2 separate regions of the Homo sapiens genome follow, and region 2 is linked to region 1. Evidence: fine-mapped expression QTL. A gene starts in region 1. The other region holds a variant in brackets. All regions are shown on one strand. Distances are from middle to middle.

Region 1 (8,000 bases):
AACAAAGCTATTTTAAAATTTTATAAAGAAATCAAAAGTAGAAGGGATCCCACTCCAAAAGCCTATCTAATTTGGGGCCGATGATGTTAAATGTACTTTAAAATAAAGAACAAGTTACAGACACTAAATTCTTGACATAGCTATTCAAGGGTGTTGGCAGGATGTGAAAATTTACAGTTCCAGCCCCTGAGGTTGTGAGAGTATCTTGACTCTATCTTGCTTGAGATAAATGTCTTGTGATTATAGTGGCTATGCTCATGGATAGAAATGTTATCTTCCTAAAAGGTCCACTTATGGGATTTGTTGGTTAATTGTGTAGTGGATTCCAAGGGAAAGAATGGTTTTTATTTGAATCCTATCCCTCACTGCCCACCTCCCCCACCACCCTGAGTCCTGCTTTACCAAAATACTTTCTATGAGTAAATGTTACCAAAGCAAACAACTTTCTCCAATAGTCCATACCTTTTTATATTATGGTACTAACTTTTCCCTCAACATAATCACAATATACTAATTTCTTTTTTTTTTCTTTTCTTTTCTTTTTCTTTTTTTTTTTTTTTTTTTTTTTTTTTTTGAGACAGAGTCTCAGTCTATCGCCCAGGCTGGAGTGCAGTGGCATGATCTTGGCTCACTGCAACCTCCATCTCCCTGGTTCAAGTGATTCTCCTGCCTCAGCCTCTCGAGTAGCTGGGATTACAGGTGCATGCCACTATGCCTGGCTAATTTTTGTATTTTTAGTAGAGATGGGGGTTTCACCATGTTGGCCAGGCTGGTCTTGAACTCCTGACCTCAAGTGATCCACACTCCTCGGTCTCCCAAAGTGCTAAGACTACAGACGTGAGCCACTGTACCGAGCCTAATTTCCTATTCTTAATGGAAACTTACTGCAGGCATGTTAGAGAAACTTAAGCAGCAACTACCATGAAGGGGAAAAGAAGACCATTTGATTTATTCAAAATGGTAGCATTATCTAAGCCGGAGTTACTTCCTCCTGGTCTATCAATTCCACAAGATGGATAAGCTTCCCCCACTCTTGCATGGTTTGACAAGCTATAAAAAGCTCCTAAGTTTACTTTCAATTTCTCCCTCAACTCAGTGGGAAACGTTATAGCAAGGGCTACGGTCAAAGGATTTTTTGTTTGTTTGTTTAAATAAAGAAAACCTCTGATCCATGAGCTGCAGTAGAAAGTTAATTCTGGCCTTGAAATCAGACGACCAGTTCAGCCGTTAATTAGTTGTAATGGGTCTTGGGCAAGACTCACAAATTTTTTGCAAGAGGTTAATGTATAGAGCAAATGAGATGAGAAATGTCAGATCCAGTTTTCTCCTCTATAATTGGTGCTAATTCCTCATCACAGGGAATGTGATGATGATTACCAGAGAATGGATGTGAAATCACTTTACAAAGAGCAGCACAAGGAGTGGATCAGTATCATTCCTGTGAGCTAGGAGACAGTATACAGTGGACACATGGCGGGCCTGGCCTCCTTGGCTGCACCTGTTCATGGATATTCCATTTTTTTTCTTTATGGGTGTCATTGGAAAAGAGAGGCAATAAAAGTGGAAGATTCACAGGCCTCATCAAATCCCCTGGAGCCCTACATTAAATAGATTAGTCATCTGTGCTCTCCAGAGTTACACATCCCCAAATTTCCATTTCTTTGTGCTTGGTAAACACAATCTTACCCCACATCTTTACTTGGGTTTGACTTATAATAAAAATATACCACCACCAAATTCATATGTTCCAGTTCTAACCCACAGAATCTCACAATGTGAAATTGTTCAGAAATAGGGTCATTGCAGATATAGGTAGTTAAGATGAGGCCATTAGGGTGGCCCTGATCCAATGCCTGGTGACCCTCTAAGAAGATGGTATTAAGACACGGATGCATGGAGGAAAGGCCATGTGCAGACAAGGGAGAAGGCGCCATCTATAAGCCAAGGAGAGAGGCCTCAGAATGCGATCGACCCTGCCAGCACCTTGATCTTGGACTCCCATCTCCAGAACTGTGAGGAAATACATTTCTGTTATTTAAGCCACTCAGTCCGTGGTACTTTGTTATGGCAACCCGAGCAAACCACTATAGTGACCTGAAATGGTTTTGAATATGCTCAGTAAAAGCAAGCCAAAAGCCTAGTTGATTTCATCTGCCAAACCAACGGGCTAGATAAACACTTTTTATAAGACAGGAAGAATGTTGTCGAATCATATCTGGCATTGCGTGGAGGTGTGAGGAAATGGTGTCACGACTCTTCACATCACAGCCTTGTGCCGCAGTCACTCACATGTGCAGCCAGTGGGGGACATCTATTTCCCTGCATGCTCAGATGTGGGCACAAGCCCTTGAGCCCGATACTGAGAGCCTTTTTTCGGAAACACCCTAGTTTGTCAGTTTCTCCCTTGTCTCTTTCTATGGTTTCCTTTTCTAACAAAGAGCTAAACCTACGAGGTCATGACATAAATGCTAGTATTCTATACAATTTCATGATGAATTATTTTCTTTCCTTCTCTTTCTTTCTTTCCTTTCTTTCTCTCTCTCTCTCTTTCTTTCTTTCTGACAGAGTCTTGCACTGTCACCTAGGCTGTAGTACAGTGGTGCAATCTCAGCTCACTGCAACCTCCACCTCCCAGGTTCAAGCAATTCTCCTGCCTCAGCCTCCTGAGTAGCTGGGATGACAGGTGTGTGCCACCATGCCCGGCTAATTTTTTTGTATTTTTGGTAGAGACGGGATTTCACTATGTTGGCCAGGCTGGTCTCAAACTCCTGACCTCATGATCTGCCTACCTTGGCCTCTCAAAGTGCTGGGATTACAGGCGTGAGCCACCATGCCCGGCCTTCTTCATTTCTTTCTAATGAATATTATACAAGGAACGTTTTTGTTTTCATTCTAGTTTTCCTTAATGAATCTTAGTGGGAAATTCATGTTTCTGGGAAATTTTGACAACATAAAGACTTACATATCTCTGGTTGGGGTATGCCCAGCACCATCTGGCCATTCAAGACTGTACTAAAGTATGGGCCTCATTACTCTCGATCTTGTCAGACCACTTGGCTATTCGGGAATTATTTCATCAAGCTGAAGATATTCCCTAAAAGATCCCAGTGAAGCCTGTTCCCTACAATTGACAATGTTTTATATTTTAAAAATACATAAATTAATAACGTTCCAGAAACATTACTTGCTCTTTTTTCAGCATTAGCATAACTAGAAGAAAATGATTTTATAAATTTCCAACATAAAATGAATGTCTCTGCGATCATCTGTAAGATTTCATCTCCACCGGAAGTAAGATCATGACAACCAAAAGTCGCTTTGACGAAACAAATCTAGGACATGTGTGTCATTGTGACTCAACATTTCCCTTACCATTTGGCGGAACCTAGTGTTTTTCTACTATAGGTTCAGCCATCTCTCTATCAAGCCATGACCTCCGTCTTATTTAGACATGATTCCTTATTTGCCAAAGAATAACAAATTGTATTTTTCTTACAAGCCTATCATTTTCATTGTCTTAGTCATTACAGGTTTTAAGTTGTTTCAGTCTGACTAAACAACACTAAATGGTAGATAAACCTAGGAAGATATTTCCGAATATGATGCTTCTCTGAGCAAGAGCACAAATACCAAATTATTTGGCCTTCTCTTTAAAATCTGAGAGGTTTTACATGAACTATGTCTAACCATAATTGAGTTTTCAGTAAGAACCAAGTTTATCTTTAAAAAAAAAAAAAAGAAAAGAAAATACACACAGTCAGATTCACCCCAATTGGAATATAACGTCTCCCAGTGTTAAAATAACAATGACACCGTCACAGCGCACTAAAACTTGGGGCTGATGTAGACACTTAGGGGTAGGCAGACACCCCCCAACAGTCAAAGGTGCCATCTCCTCCATGCAACAGGCACAGGAGTCATTTTCTAGATTCCTTTTTTGAGCTTTTAAAATTTATAAACCTCACATTTTCATCCCAAAATAGCACATTTCAATCATTGTAAGAGTTTACAAGACTGCACACGCCACAGAGTTTAATTTTTCTTGGTACCAAACTTAACAGAACTCATATTAAAGGGTTCAGCGACCCCAAATCCTTCTTCTTTGCCTCCTTTCTCACAATATTATACATTCTATGCCTTAAAATGAATATAATGACTTGCATGGACCACAGGGCTTACAGAGAAGATGGCTGGGGAACAAGACTCCTGAGTCTTACCTTGAACTGAGGATTCCAGAACCAGGATGAGGGCAAGAGCCAGGACAAGCCGACTGCATTTGAGTAGCTTCTGCATCATGACCAACTTAGTCTAGCTCTCCCAGCTGCACGCCAACTTCTTGATTAGGAAATGTAGCAGGGTGCTCTCTGTCCCTTTTAGAAAATGTTCCAAAACCTCAAACCCTGCCCAGAACACACGTCACAATTTCCTGAACAAATAGAAAGACATCCACATCAAAACCCAGAAAGAAAGGGGGTGGGGGGAACACAGTAAAATAACTATTCATACCCATTATGAAACTGTACTGGACTCCCCCCAGGCCTGCTTTTTCAAAAGTTTTGTTGTTTGCCACTTGCCTGCAAGACATTTTTTTTTCCCACCGAAACAGTAGAATCAGCATTTGGGACAGTTTGTTTTTCCTTTCTTCAGGTAACAATCTAAACACTAGATTGCTAATATTAAGAATCTGCTGCATTTTTTATGAGATAAGGGATCTAGGTGCTGCCTTTTCGTCACCAAGCACTTTCAACATAAAACATTCTCTTCATTTTCTTTTTCACCGGGGAGTAACATACCTCACTGAGCCAAGCTCGTGAAGTGAAACTTCAAAGCTGAGCTCTAACCTTCAAGAATGAGTTGTCGGATTTCAGATGAACAGTTTCTTCTTCTTCTTTTTCTTCTTTTTTTTTTTTTTTTTTTTTTTTTTGAGATGGAGTCTCACTCTGTCACCCAGGCTGGAGAGCAGTGGCGCGATCTCAGCTCACTGCAACCTCCATCTCCAGGGTTCAAGCAATTCTCCTGCCTCAGCCTCCTGAGTAGCTGGGATTACAGGCGTACACCACTGCGCTGGACTAATTTTGTATTTTTAGTAGAGACGACGTGTCACCATGTTGGCCAGGCTGGCCTCAAACTCCCAACCTCAGGCCATCCGCCTGCCTCAGCCTCCCAAAGTGCTGGGATTACAGGCGTGAGCCACCGTGCCCAGCAAACAGTTTCTTCTTAAACTCAGTTTCTTGCATTGGATCATTGGCTCTCTCTCTATCTCAAGAACATAGGATTTTCAGTTACAAAGACTGTGGTAAAACAGAAAAACTATTTTGCATTCCCCTCTCCTTCACATTGAGCATTTCTTAAGATGGATTCCATTTCTATTTTTATCTGTTCTCCTAGTCAAAATTTTCAACTCGAGTTTTGGGTCCTCTGGCCTTGAATAAGCCAGAAATCAGGAACGAGGGAGAGGTTGTCCTCACAGTGAGCTGCTGGACCTCAGCAAACAACACAAACCTCTGCCTCATGTAAATAAAGGAACAGCATTTTCCCTGGGCATGGTGCAGATTTCTGGAGGACTAAGGCTCCATATTAAAGTTATACAATAAAGGCCAGGTGCTGTGGTCCACACCTGTAATCCCAGCACTTTGGGAGGCTGAGGTGGGTGGATCACAAGGTCAGGAGATCGAGACCATCCTGGCTAACACCGTGAAACCCCGTCTCCACTAAAAATACAAAAAATTAGCCGGGCGTGGTGGCGAGTGCCTGTAGTCCCAGCTACTCGGGAGGCTGGGGTAGGAGAATCGCTTGAACCCGGGAGGCAGAGGTTGCAGTGAGCCAAGATCGTGCCATTGCACTCCAGCCTGGGTGACAGAGAGAGACTCTATTTCAAAAAACTAAAAATAATAAAATAAAATAAAATAAAGTTATACAATAAATACAAGCCTATCATACATCCTTGCCCTTGTGGCATATACATTTTCCTTACTTCCTTTCAAGATTCAACCACTCTCCATTTCAACATGTCTATCCCTACCGCTCCCCCAGACGGCTTAATGCACGTGCCCCACTTTCCATTCTCATCCTCGCCCTTGCCTGGCCTTTGATAGGAGGGAGGAGTTTCCCTTCCCTTGTTTTAGGCTTCCTGCTGATTCCTTTACCATTTCCTGCTAAGGACAGAGTCTCACAGTCTAATAGCCGTGGTGCAAGAACACAAAGAGTGTACATTTTGGCCCTCCTCAGAAGCCCCTCACATCAGCCAGAAGTGTGTCCTCCAACTCAGGGGCGTCTCCAAGCACAGTAACCAACCCCAAAATGCACTGGCCCGGAAAGTTTTCCACTGAGAAATGTCGGTTTCTGTTTGAAATATCAGATGTCATCTTTGGTCCTTTTAAATCTAACTCCCAATTGAAAACCCTGGCACCAAAACAATAGTTCCTATCAATAGCTTCGATGAGTTTCCTGCAAATCCCCAGAGCTGATTAGGGCTGTGTTTTAAAATGGTAATTTTAGGGGCTTTTTCCATTTGGGAACTTCATTTTTTTTCTTTCTTTCTCTGGGTCATGGTGTTGTTGTTGTTTTTTACCTCTCTCTCTCTGTCGCCCAGGGTGTACCTCCACCTCCTGGGTTCAAGCAAACGCATTTGACTAATTTTTTTTCTTTCTTTCTTTTCTTTTCTTTTCTTTTCTTTTTTTTAGTACAGATGGGGTTTTTGTCATGTTGGCCAAGCTGCCCTCGAACTCCTGACCTCAAGTGATCCACCTGTCTCGGCCTCCCAAAGTGCTGGGATTACAGACGTAAGCCACAACGCCCAGCTCATGGTGACTTTTAAAGCACAGGTGCAGTATTCATAAGCATTTGCTCTTCTCCCACTACGCTGATAATCAAGTCTCTTTTTCTAAGAAGTCCTCCAGTCTCATTTAGCCCTCTTCAAGCTGTAGGGGAGCAGGACACATGCTGCAGCAGCTGGAAGTCCTGGGTCCAAGCCCATGCCCTTCACTTACCAGCTGAGCCACGCTGGGCCACTCACTTTTTATGCGTCCTTTGTTCCAGATGTAATGATGGTGTGGGAAGCCAATGACAGGATGTCCTCAAGAGCACATGGCACACGTGGTGAGGGAGGCATTGGCAACAGTCCTCAGGGCTGGGCATGATCTTACCAAAAGATTCCGCCATTAACCCAATAGGACCCACATCTTTCCCTAAAAGTCAATCTACGATATGCATGTTTTCCACAATTTTAAAAGACAAACCCTATACCAGACTTAATCCTTCTTTCACCAGGCAACCTGAGATGCACCTACTTTACTTCACATTCAGTTTATTTGCCCATAAAATGAGTATTCTTATTCCTTAACAGTCACCTGGAACATGACAGAAATCAGTTCCTGTTGTTTAATAAAGTGACGGGTCGCCGGCAGGGCAGGGTGGCTCACACCAGCACTTTGGGAGGCCAAGGTGGGCGGATCACTCACCTAAGGTCAGGAGTTTGAGACTAGCCTGGATAACATGGTGAAACCCTGTCTCTACTAAAAATACAAAAAAATTATCTGGACATGATGGCGGGCACCTCTAATACCAGCTACTCAGGAGGCTGAGGCAGGAGAATTGCTTGAACCTGGGAGGCAGAGGTTGCAGTGAGCAGAGATCATGCCATTGCACTCCAGCTTGGGTGACAGAGCAAGACTCCATCTCAAAAAAAGAAAAAAAAAATGATAAATTGAGGTTATGAGAAGAGATACAGAGGGCACCATGAAACTGCACAAAGGGGAAGCTCCAAGGCCTATTTCTTTCCTAAAGCTCCAGGTTAAAGATTCCGCCACCAGCAGCCTCTAGGACTTTTGCTTGGCTCTTCATTGAGAGGGTCTTGACTCTGAACTGGGCACTGCACCAAAAAAACAAAACAAACAAACAAACAAACAAAAACCAGTAAATAGATACTGCACCAAATCTGTATGTCTCTAGAGGCTTGAAGGACGGCCCTTGCATGAATTTTTGATTTCTAGAACTAGAAG
Region 2 (9,687 bases), 30 kb after region 1:
GGAGAAGGAGTGAATAGGGTGATGAGGATCAAAATGGATCAGGGTCTCTTCCTACAGATAAGGAAACTGAGGATCCCAAAATGGAGTAACTTGCCCCAGCTCATACACCAAGCCGGGGGGCAGCCAGGATTGAACCCAGTTCTGTCTCCAACTAAGTGGTTTTTAGTATATTCATAACCATCATCACTATCTAATTCCAGAACATTCTCATCACTCCAAAAAGATACTCTTCATTCCCCATTCCTCCCTCCACCCAGCTCCTGTCCACCACGAATCTACTTTTTGCCTCCATGGACATGTCTGTTCTGAGCATTTCATGTAAATGGAACCATACATTTTGTGGCCTTTTGTGACCAGCTTCTTTACTTAGCATAATGTTTTTGAGGTTTACTCATATTGTTGCATGTCTCAGCACTTCGCTCTTTTTGTGACCAAATATGTGCTTGCATGGATCTCCTTGGTTTTGTTTATGCACTCACCTGTGGATGGGCATTTGAGTTGTTTCCACTTTTTGGCTATCACGGATAATGCTGCTATGAACATCCTTGCATAAGTTTTTGTGTGGACATAACTGTATTCTCAATTCTCCTGGGTAAACACCCAGGAGTGGAATTGCTGAGTCCTATGGTGACTCTATTTTTTAACTTTTTAGGAACTTCCAGACCATTTTCTGGAGCTTCACTTCTGTTATCAACCCCATTTTGCTGATGACAAGGGAGGGAGAGAAGTGAGTTTGCTCATATTCGTCAGCTCTTGAATGGCGGACTCAGAGGGTGGGGACTGCTCGTGGAAAGGAATCCTCTGTTTCCCTCAATGCATTTCATCCATTCTTCGAAACTTTTGAGACCCTTCTATGTGCCAGTCACTAGTCTAGGTGCTGAAATTACCTCTGAGAGCCAGACAGACATAGTTCCTGCCCTCTTGGAGACATAGGTTAGAGGAGAAAACAGACAGTAGGCAAATAATTACAAATTTGACAAGCATAATGGCAAAATCTATTAGAGTATTTGCCAACTTATCCTCTACTTTGTACAGTGATCAAGAACTTGGGCTTGGAGTCAGCCCGCCTATGTTCGAGTACTGGCCACTTACTAGCTGGGGGGCCTGGACAATTTCCCTAACCTCCCTATGTCTCCACTATTCACGTGGAAATGGACAGAGTAATAGTACCTACTTTAAGGTTTACAGGGTGGATTCAAAGCATCAAAACCTAGAAAGCACTTCAAACCTGGCTTTGGCAAGTCCAAAATCAATACAAGCTATCGAGGTTGCTGTTATACTGTCTACACCTTATCCATCACTCTGGGGTATGAATCCTGGTCCCTCCAGCTTTCACTGTTTCCCACCTCCTCCCCATGCCTGGCTACCCATATACAAACTCTGACAGTAAGCAGAATTCCCACAGTGCTCTGTTCCAACATCCTGCATTGAGCTAATCTGGTTTGATGCTTCAGTTAGAATCCCTAATTCTAATTGAATGCCAGGCTCCTCATTGCACAGAGTGCCAGGCTCCTCATTGCACAGAGAAGAAAATGCTTTTTAAATATTCATCTTTTCTCCTTCACTAGACTGTGAGCGCCCTGAAGCTAGGCCTTCTTTCTCCTGTAGTGCTAAAAGTTTTTGGCAAGAAAAACAAGTGGAGGTAAAGTCGTAAAGTAGGGTGGTAGGGTTGAGAAAGGACAGGCTCTGGAGCCAGACAGCCCTGGGGCTATCACACCTGCTCTGCCACCTGTAACCACCTGACCAGGACAGCTTCCTTGGGGAGCCTCCTTCAATCATCTGTGAAATGCAGGAGGAGCAGCCGCCCGTCAGACCTGGTGGGGATCAGCAGTGACCTGCAGAAGTTGCTGGTGTGGTGGGCACCGGATACCTGGTGTTTCTGCTGCCTCGGTGCTGCTGAGGACCCAGAGCCCTGCCTGAGCAGCACGCTCACAGAGGCAGCGAAGTACAGGAAGTACACAAGGTCAAAAGGAAAACACGCTCTCCAGAGACGTCCTCTGATCACTATCGTGTACGTTGGGTCGAATGGAACAGAATTTGCTGCTAGAGTGTTTTTCCTCTCCTAACCCCATAGACGCTTCTATTTTGCTATTTTTACTAAACTCGAACAGGAACAGAAAGTATTCATGCAACTGTATCCAGTGAATGATTAAGAAATGCGTAAGAGCGGAGATTGTGTAATTCCCAGGCTGCTGTGCCTTGTCATCAGCCGCAAGTCCGAGAAATACTGCAACCGTCAAGTTGACCTCTGTTCCTAAGAAATTTCCTGGGTTGGCTTTAACACATTCTTTGAGAGTTATGACATAGGATATTAAAAAAATTCCTCCCACTTAGTGAGCCATACAAAGCCCACCACACATCAGTAGTGTCCATCCCATGTTTAATCTTCAGAAGGTGTGTGAGGAATAACATGTTTGCTTTTGAAAGATGCCTTGTAGACTGTGCGCAGTGGCTCATGCCTGTAATCCCAGCACTTTGGGAGGCTGAGGAGAGCGGATCACCTGAGGTCAGGAGTTTGAAACCAGCCTGGTCAACATGGTGAAACGCCATCTCTATTAAAAATACAAAACTTAGCCAGGCGTTGTGGCGGGCACCTGTAATCCCAGCTACTAAGGAGGCTGAGGTAGAAGAATTGCTTGAACCTGGGAGGCAGAGGCTGCAGTGAGCTGAGATCATGCCACTGCACTCCAGCCTGGGCAACAGAGCAAGACTCCATCTCAAAAAAAAAAAAAAAGATGCCTTGTCTTCAAGCAAACTATTATTAAGGATGAGTTGCTTATTTGTATTAAAAAGAGGGCTGGAGGATAGCTTGAGCCCAGGAGTTCAAAACCTGCCTGGGCAATATAGTGAGACCCCATTCTCAAAAAAAAAAAAAAAAGAAAGAAAAGGTGGGGATCACTGAATTTTCTATTGCATTAACCAAGAATCTTAAAAGTCATATTTTTAAAGATTATTGAAGATTTAAAATGTGTCTTGTTTTTTTTTTTTTCATTTTGTTTTATTTTATTTGAGACAGGGTCTCATGATGTTGCCCAGGCTGGTTTTACTCCTGGGCTCAAACTGTCTTCCTGCCTCATCCTCCCAATTAGCTGGGATTTCAAGTGCATGCCAACCCACACAGCCTTTTCTTTTTCATTTTCCTTTCTTTTTTTTTTTTGAGGCAGGATCTTGCTGTGTTGCCCAGGCTGGAGTGCAGTGGTGCAATCGCACTTCATTGCAGCCTGGACCTCCTGAGCTCAAGTGAGCCTCCCACCTCAGCCTCTTAAGAAGCTGGGACTGCAGACACATGCCAGCAATACACCTGGCTAATATTTTAATTTAATTTTTTCTAGAGACAGGGTCTCACAATGTTGCCCAGACTGGTCTCGAACTCCTGGATCAAGCAGTTTGCCCACCTCAGCCTCCCAAAATGTTGCAATTACAGGCTTGAGCCTTTTTATTATTTATTTATTTATTTATTTATTTATTTATTTATTTATTTTGAGATGGAGTCTTGCTCTTTGTTGCCCAGGGTGGAGTACAATGGCGCGACCTTGGCTAACTGCAACCTCCACCTCTCGGGTTCAAGCGATTCTCCTGCCTCAGCCTCCTCAGCAGCTGGGACTACAGGTGCGTGCCACCACACCCG[G/A]CTAATTTTTTGTATTTTTTTGTAGAGACGGGGTTTCACCGTGTTAGCCAAGATGGTCTCAATCTCCTGACCTCGTGATCTGCCCGCCTCGGACTCCCAAAATGCTGGGATTACAGGCGTGAGCCACCGTGCCCGGCCTGAGCCTTTTTATTTTTAAAAGTGGCTTTCCATTTTCTTTCTGTGGCAATTTCAAGAGGCATGGTGTGTTATTATCCCTGAGCTTTCTTGGGTATTAAAAAAAGGCCATGGGACTGGGCGCGGTGGCTCACGCCTGTAATCCCAGCACTTTGGGAGGCTGAGGTGGGCGGACCACCTGAGGTCAGGAGTTCAAGACCAGTTTGACCAACATGGTGAAACCCTATCTCTACTAAAATACAAAAAAATTAGCCGCGCGTAGTGACAGGTGCCTGTAGTCTCAGCTACTTGGGAGGCTGAGGCGGGAGAATTGCTTGAAACCAGGAGGCAGAGGTTGCAGTGAGCCAAGATTGCGCCATTGCACTTCAGCCTGGGCAACAAGAGACTCTGTCTCACATAAAAAAAAAAAAAAAAAGAGGCCATGGGGCTGGGCGCAGTGGCTCACACCTGTAATGCCAACACTTTGGAAGGCCAGGGTGGGAGGATCACTTGAGCCTAGGAGTTCCAGGCTGCAGTGAGCTATGGTCATGCCATTGTACTCCAACATGGGTGACAGAGTGAGACCTTGTCTCAAACATAATAATAATAATAATAGTAATAATAAAATGAAAATAGGTGGTGGCAGCTCCCACTTCATCTTTATTTTTTATTTCAGAGGCACTTATAAACCAGGAGAATTATGTGGAAAAGGAGTCCCCCGATATAACCCAAGACTCAGGAAATTCTTGCTCCTCTTGGCAGGGATGCAGCTGAAATTTACCTTTAGTTAGCATACTCCTCAGATAGGGCAAATGAATTGTGCAAAGATCAAAATGGGGCTTTTTTTTTTTTTTTTTTTGAGATGTCTCGCTCTGTCACCCAGGCTGGAGTGCAGTGGCACGATCTCAGCTCACTGTAATCTCTGCCTCCCAGCTTCAAGTGATTCTCCTGCCTCAGCCTCCTGAGTAGCTGGGATTACAGGTTCTACCACCGTGCCCAGCTAATTTTTGTATGTTTTAGTAGAGATGGCGTTTCGCCATGTTGGCCAGGCTGGTCTTGAACTCCTGACCTCAGGTGATCCGCCTGCCTCAGCCTCCCAAAGTGCTGGGATTACAGGTGTGAGCCAGTGCGCCCGGCCAAGGTGGAGTTTCTTTATTTTATTTATTATTTTTTTTTTATTTTTTTGAGACAGGGTCTCATTCTGTTCCCCAGGCTGGAGTGCAGGGGCATGATCACAGCCCCAGGACTCAAGTGATCCTCCCACCTCAGCCTCCCAAATAGCTGAGACTACGGGTATGCACCACCACACCCAGCTAATTTCTTTTTTTTTTTTTTAGAGATGGGTTTTTGACATGTTGCCCAGGCTGGTCTCAAACTCCTGGGCTCAAGCGATCCTCCTGCCTCAGCCTCCCAAAGTGTTAGGATTACAGGTATGAGCCACCATGCCTGGCTGGGGAGTATCTCTTAATGACTTAAGAAAACTTAAAAGAACAAACTCTTCACTATTTGGTCCGTGTGTTTGCTCCAAATTAGTAAAATTTGACCATGAAATAAAAATTGGAGGCAGGTACGAGGAGTTGGCATCCCTTTGGTGGTTGCTAAAGTTGGGCAAGAAGGAAAACAGAAAACAGAGAAGAATGATAGTGAAGTCCACAGTGAAGTGATATTAACAGAAACCAGTGTAGCCGCAACAGGGAAGGCTGGGGACAGAACTCTCAAAGCCATATACTCGCAAGGAAACCACTAACTCCTGCCCATACCAGGCACCCCAGGACTGTGCCCTAGACCCTTAATAATGACAAATTTTTTCAAATCAGTAACCGAGACCCAACAACAAAAGGGTAACCACATATATGAAATGAATACCAACTCAGAAAATCCAGGGCTCCTGGGCATAACTCTCTTGAACCTCAACTTGGGATGCCTGCAGCCTGAATCACTTCTGAGCCCTTTGGGGATGGGGATCAGCCCTGAGTCCAGGCTGGGATTCAGCTCACTAGAAGCACATTCCCCACCCTTTCCTCCTTATCTGTAGGTGGAGGCAGCTGGGAGACTGTGGGTGATCCTCCACTTATTTCCAGTAGGTTCCTTTTGTCACCAGCAGTCTCTCCTCTAAAGCCAAGAGGAGTCAGGGAGAAGAGTCTGTCCTGGGCTGCTCGACTCGTGCTGAGAAGACACCACTTCCAGGAAGCCTGGGCACAAACGACTCTGACCACTTTGCTTTCAGATTTCAGCGAGGACAGACACTGTGGGGTCACTGTGGTTGGTTCTTGTTAAAGTTCTGAATGCTTCCATTGCTTGAAAAGGGAGGTCTTAGAGAACAGGCCAGAAGACAAGTCTTTCTACCTTCCCCAGGAGGAGGAAGTCACAGGTTAGGCCTCAGGGAGAAGAGCTGCTGATCTTTTGCACTGGAATCAAGAAGTCAGGGAGAGGGTGAGAACTGGGGTGGACCCAAGGCCTCTGCCGCCTTTTGTACCTGCGCTGTCCCGTGTTTATTTATCTACCAGTTAGTTTCCCCCAGCATGGTGTGGAACTGGAAGTGCATGTGGGCTCCCGCCGGCCCCAGCCCACTTCCTCCTCTCCAGGGAGACAATAAGGGGAAGGGAAAGCGTGGCACACTAAACCTGCCAGGGACCTGAGGTCCTGGCTCTGCTGCCCCCCTGCTGCCGAGCCGTCGATCGTGGGAAATTCATCCACCTCTCTAACTTTGCCTCTTCCTCCTCCAAACATGGGGAAGAGAACCTCTACAATGGGGTACAGAATTTGGATGATACATGTGTATTTTCCTGAGGAGATGGTTCTGCAGCTTTCGCCAGAGGGCTGAAAGAGTTCCCGGACTCCAAGGGAAAAAAGATCCAGTCTAAGGGCCCTGTTCCGTGGCTCCGAGCAGCACGGCAGACACTTCCTGGGTCTGTCGTTTACTTCAGGCACCTCTCACTCGCACCTCAGACATCTCCTCAGACACCCAGGTCTCCAGCCATCCACAACTATGATTCTTTTTGCTTTAATCAACCTCTGTTTTAGGCTGCTGGGCCAGGAGGTCAAGTTCCCCTGTGGTGACACCACCACCTCTCGCCAACTGGTCACTGTTGTGCACGCCCCACACAGCATGTGTGCCCACCCACAGGGGCAGGTGGATCCAAAGGGTACTGCTGTGAGTTGGGCAGCTAAGACTCTATCTAGCCTTTAAGACTCAGCTCAGCCACGCACCAGACAACCCAGGGTGGGTGTGAGAGAGTAGAAACATCATCTGAAGTTAACCCATTTGTTTCTGGTTTGCTCTACACACCTGTACCAGGCCCCAGCTGCAAACCTCTTCCTACTCTGAGTTCTTGGCTCAGATCCCCTGGCCAGACTGTGAGCTCCCTGAGGGTGGGGGACTGTGCCTGGGGCAGGCTTGGATCACAGGGGCCAAGCGTCTGCCGAGCTGCAGAAGGGCTCTAAAGGAGCGCCAGCAGGCATCAGTGGGTCTCCCAGGTCCCTCCTCTGGCGGGAACACTAGCAATCAGGGCAGGAAGGAATTGTGAGGGGCAGCAAGGAGCTGGCGGTCAGCATCTACCTGTCGAGGCTCAAGGAACAACTGCTCTCCTCCAGTCCAAGCTCTTCTCATTCCCTCACTGTTTGGGTTGCCCCCTCCCCCTTGGGTTAACAAGGCTGGAAAAAAGCCCTATTGCCCTCCCCCAGGGCTGCCATGGGAGGCCAAGGGGCACTTCTGCCAAAAAATGAGAAACGAGTAAGTGAGGGGGTGCTCTCACCCCAAACGGAAGTGAGACAGCCCTGACCGTGAGCGGTGTGACCTTTGCCTGCAGGCCACACAGGAAGAGAGAGGGAGTTACTGTGTCCACTACATACCACTCTGCCTTCTCTGGGGACAAGGAGCCTCCTCTGAATGTTCTTTACCTTCCGAAGATCTTTGCTTTGATCAGGGGCCCTTTTGGCCATCTGGCCAGCCTACAGACCCCCTTCTCAGAATGCTGTCTTAAAATACATCTAACATAGCCGGGTGCAGTGGCTCACGCCTGTAATCCCAGCACTTTGAGAGGCCGAGGTGGGTGGATCACGAGGTCAGGAGATTGAGACCATCCTGGCTAACACGGTGAAACCCCATCTCTACTAAAAATACAAAAAATTAGCCAGGTGTGGTGGCGGGCAACTGTAGTCTCAGCTACTTGGGAAGCTGAAGCAGGAGAATGGCATGAACCCAGGAGGCAGAGGTTGCAGTGAGCCAAAATCATGCCACTGCACTCCAGCCTGGGCGACAGAGCGAGACTCCGTCTCAAAAAAAAAAGAAAAGAAAAAAATCTAAGATACATAGGATTTCTATTGAAACAATTATGTTGAATGCCAGTAGCCAAAAATATTGTAAAATTTGTGATATGGTGATATATGTGCATCTTCATTAATGCATTAAATAACAAAATCTAGGAGGAATCTAATAATCATCTTACTTTTTAAGTGCAGATGAGCTTAAATCATATTTCAAGATACCCACAACAACCATAAAATGATATGAGAAGATCTGATTTCTAGGGTGACAAAGTCACAGGTACTGTTGACACTGCTGTGGTTTGACATTTACATTCATAACGGAAGAAAACACTCAATTTCAGTTGGAGGTTCATGAAAATTAAGGTGTCATTTATTCCCATTCAAGTTCATCAATTCTTTTGAATGCTCTCTGCGGAGCCACTGTAACTGCATCAGACCAATCTGGTTCAGCTTTTTTTTTTTTTTTTTTTTTTATACTTTAAGTTTTAGGGTACATGTGCACAATGTGCAGGTTAGTTACATATGTATACATGTGCCATGCTGGTGCGCTGCACCCACTAACTCGTCATCTAGCATTAGGTATATCTCCCAATGCTATCCCTCCCCCCTCCCCCCACCCCACCACAGTCCCCAGAGTGTGATATTCCCCTTCCTGTGTCCATGTGATCTCATTGTTCAATTCCCACCTATGAGTGAGAATATACGGTGTTTGGTTTTTTGTTCTTGCGATAGTTTACTGAGAATGAGCTTTTATGTAACAAAGATGTGAGTTGTTTCCCAGTTGCCTCAGACCCTCGGGTCACAAAACCTGAGCATGCGCAGATGAACCAAGCCTGCAACCACAGGGGAACCCAAGTGGGGGCTGAATGAAGAATCAGACACTGGGCCAGGCGTGGTGGCTCATGCCTGTAATCCCAGCACTTCGGGAGGCTGAGGTGGGTGGATCACAGGAGGCCAGGAGTTCGAGACCAGCTTGGCTCACATGGCAAAACCCTGTCTCTACTAAAAATACAAAAAGTAGCCAGGTGTGGTGGTGCTTGTCTGTAATCCCAGCTAGCTGAAGCACAAGAATCGCTTGAGGCTGGGCTTGGTGGCTCACGCCTGTAATCCCAGCACTCTGGAAGGCCGAGGCGGGGGAATCATGAAGTCAGGAGATCGAGACCATTCTGACTAACACAGTGAAACCCCATCTCTACTAAAAGTATAAAAAGTTAGCCGGGCGTGGTGGCGGGCACCTGTAGTCCCAGCTACTCAGGAGGCTGAGGCAGGAGAATGATGTGAACCCAGGAGGCGAAGCTTGCAGTGAGCCGCGATTGCGCCACTGCACTCCAGACTGGGCAACGGAGCCAGACTCCATCTCAAAAAAAAAAAAAAAAAAAAGAATTGCTTGAGCTTGGTGGGTGGAGGTTGCAGTGAGCTGAGATTGCGCCACTGCACTCCAACCTGGGTGACACAGTGAGACTCCATCTCAAAAAAAAAAAAAAAAGAAGAAGCAGGCACTGCATGGCAGGATCCAGTCGGATCACTACCCTATGCTTATAAAACGTGACCCAGTCCCCGGCTCAGGGGGACACTGCTTTGGGACTTGTTACAAGTCATAAAATCCCCTTGCTACATCCTCTCTGGTGGCGGTCATTGAACTGATACCCACCAAGTGGCCGAACCCACCAGTTGTG

The links. PIP is the estimated chance that this variant, and not a neighbour inherited with it, causes the effect.
Region 2: its variant is fine-mapped to the expression of SRGN in whole blood (TOPMed, PIP above 0.99).

The regions. Positions count from the first base shown.
Region 1 is chr10:69,084,454-69,092,453 of GRCh38, reverse strand. It overlaps SRGN (serglycin), which reads right to left and starts at 4,351. Exons shown (of 3, transcript NM_002727.4): 1 at 4,218-4,351. The coding sequence starts at 4,296. RefSeq lists a silencer at 2,143-2,322 and enhancers at 3,021-4,220, 5,868-6,037.
Region 2 is chr10:69,054,097-69,063,783 of GRCh38, reverse strand. No RefSeq gene overlaps it. Among named protein-coding and RNA genes, the nearest start is that of SRGN, 29 kb to the left of the region's middle. RefSeq lists enhancers at 1,996-2,115, 6,064-6,263, 6,674-6,853, 7,064-7,213 and a silencer at 8,873-8,922. The variant G/A (reference allele first, on the strand shown) is at 3,629.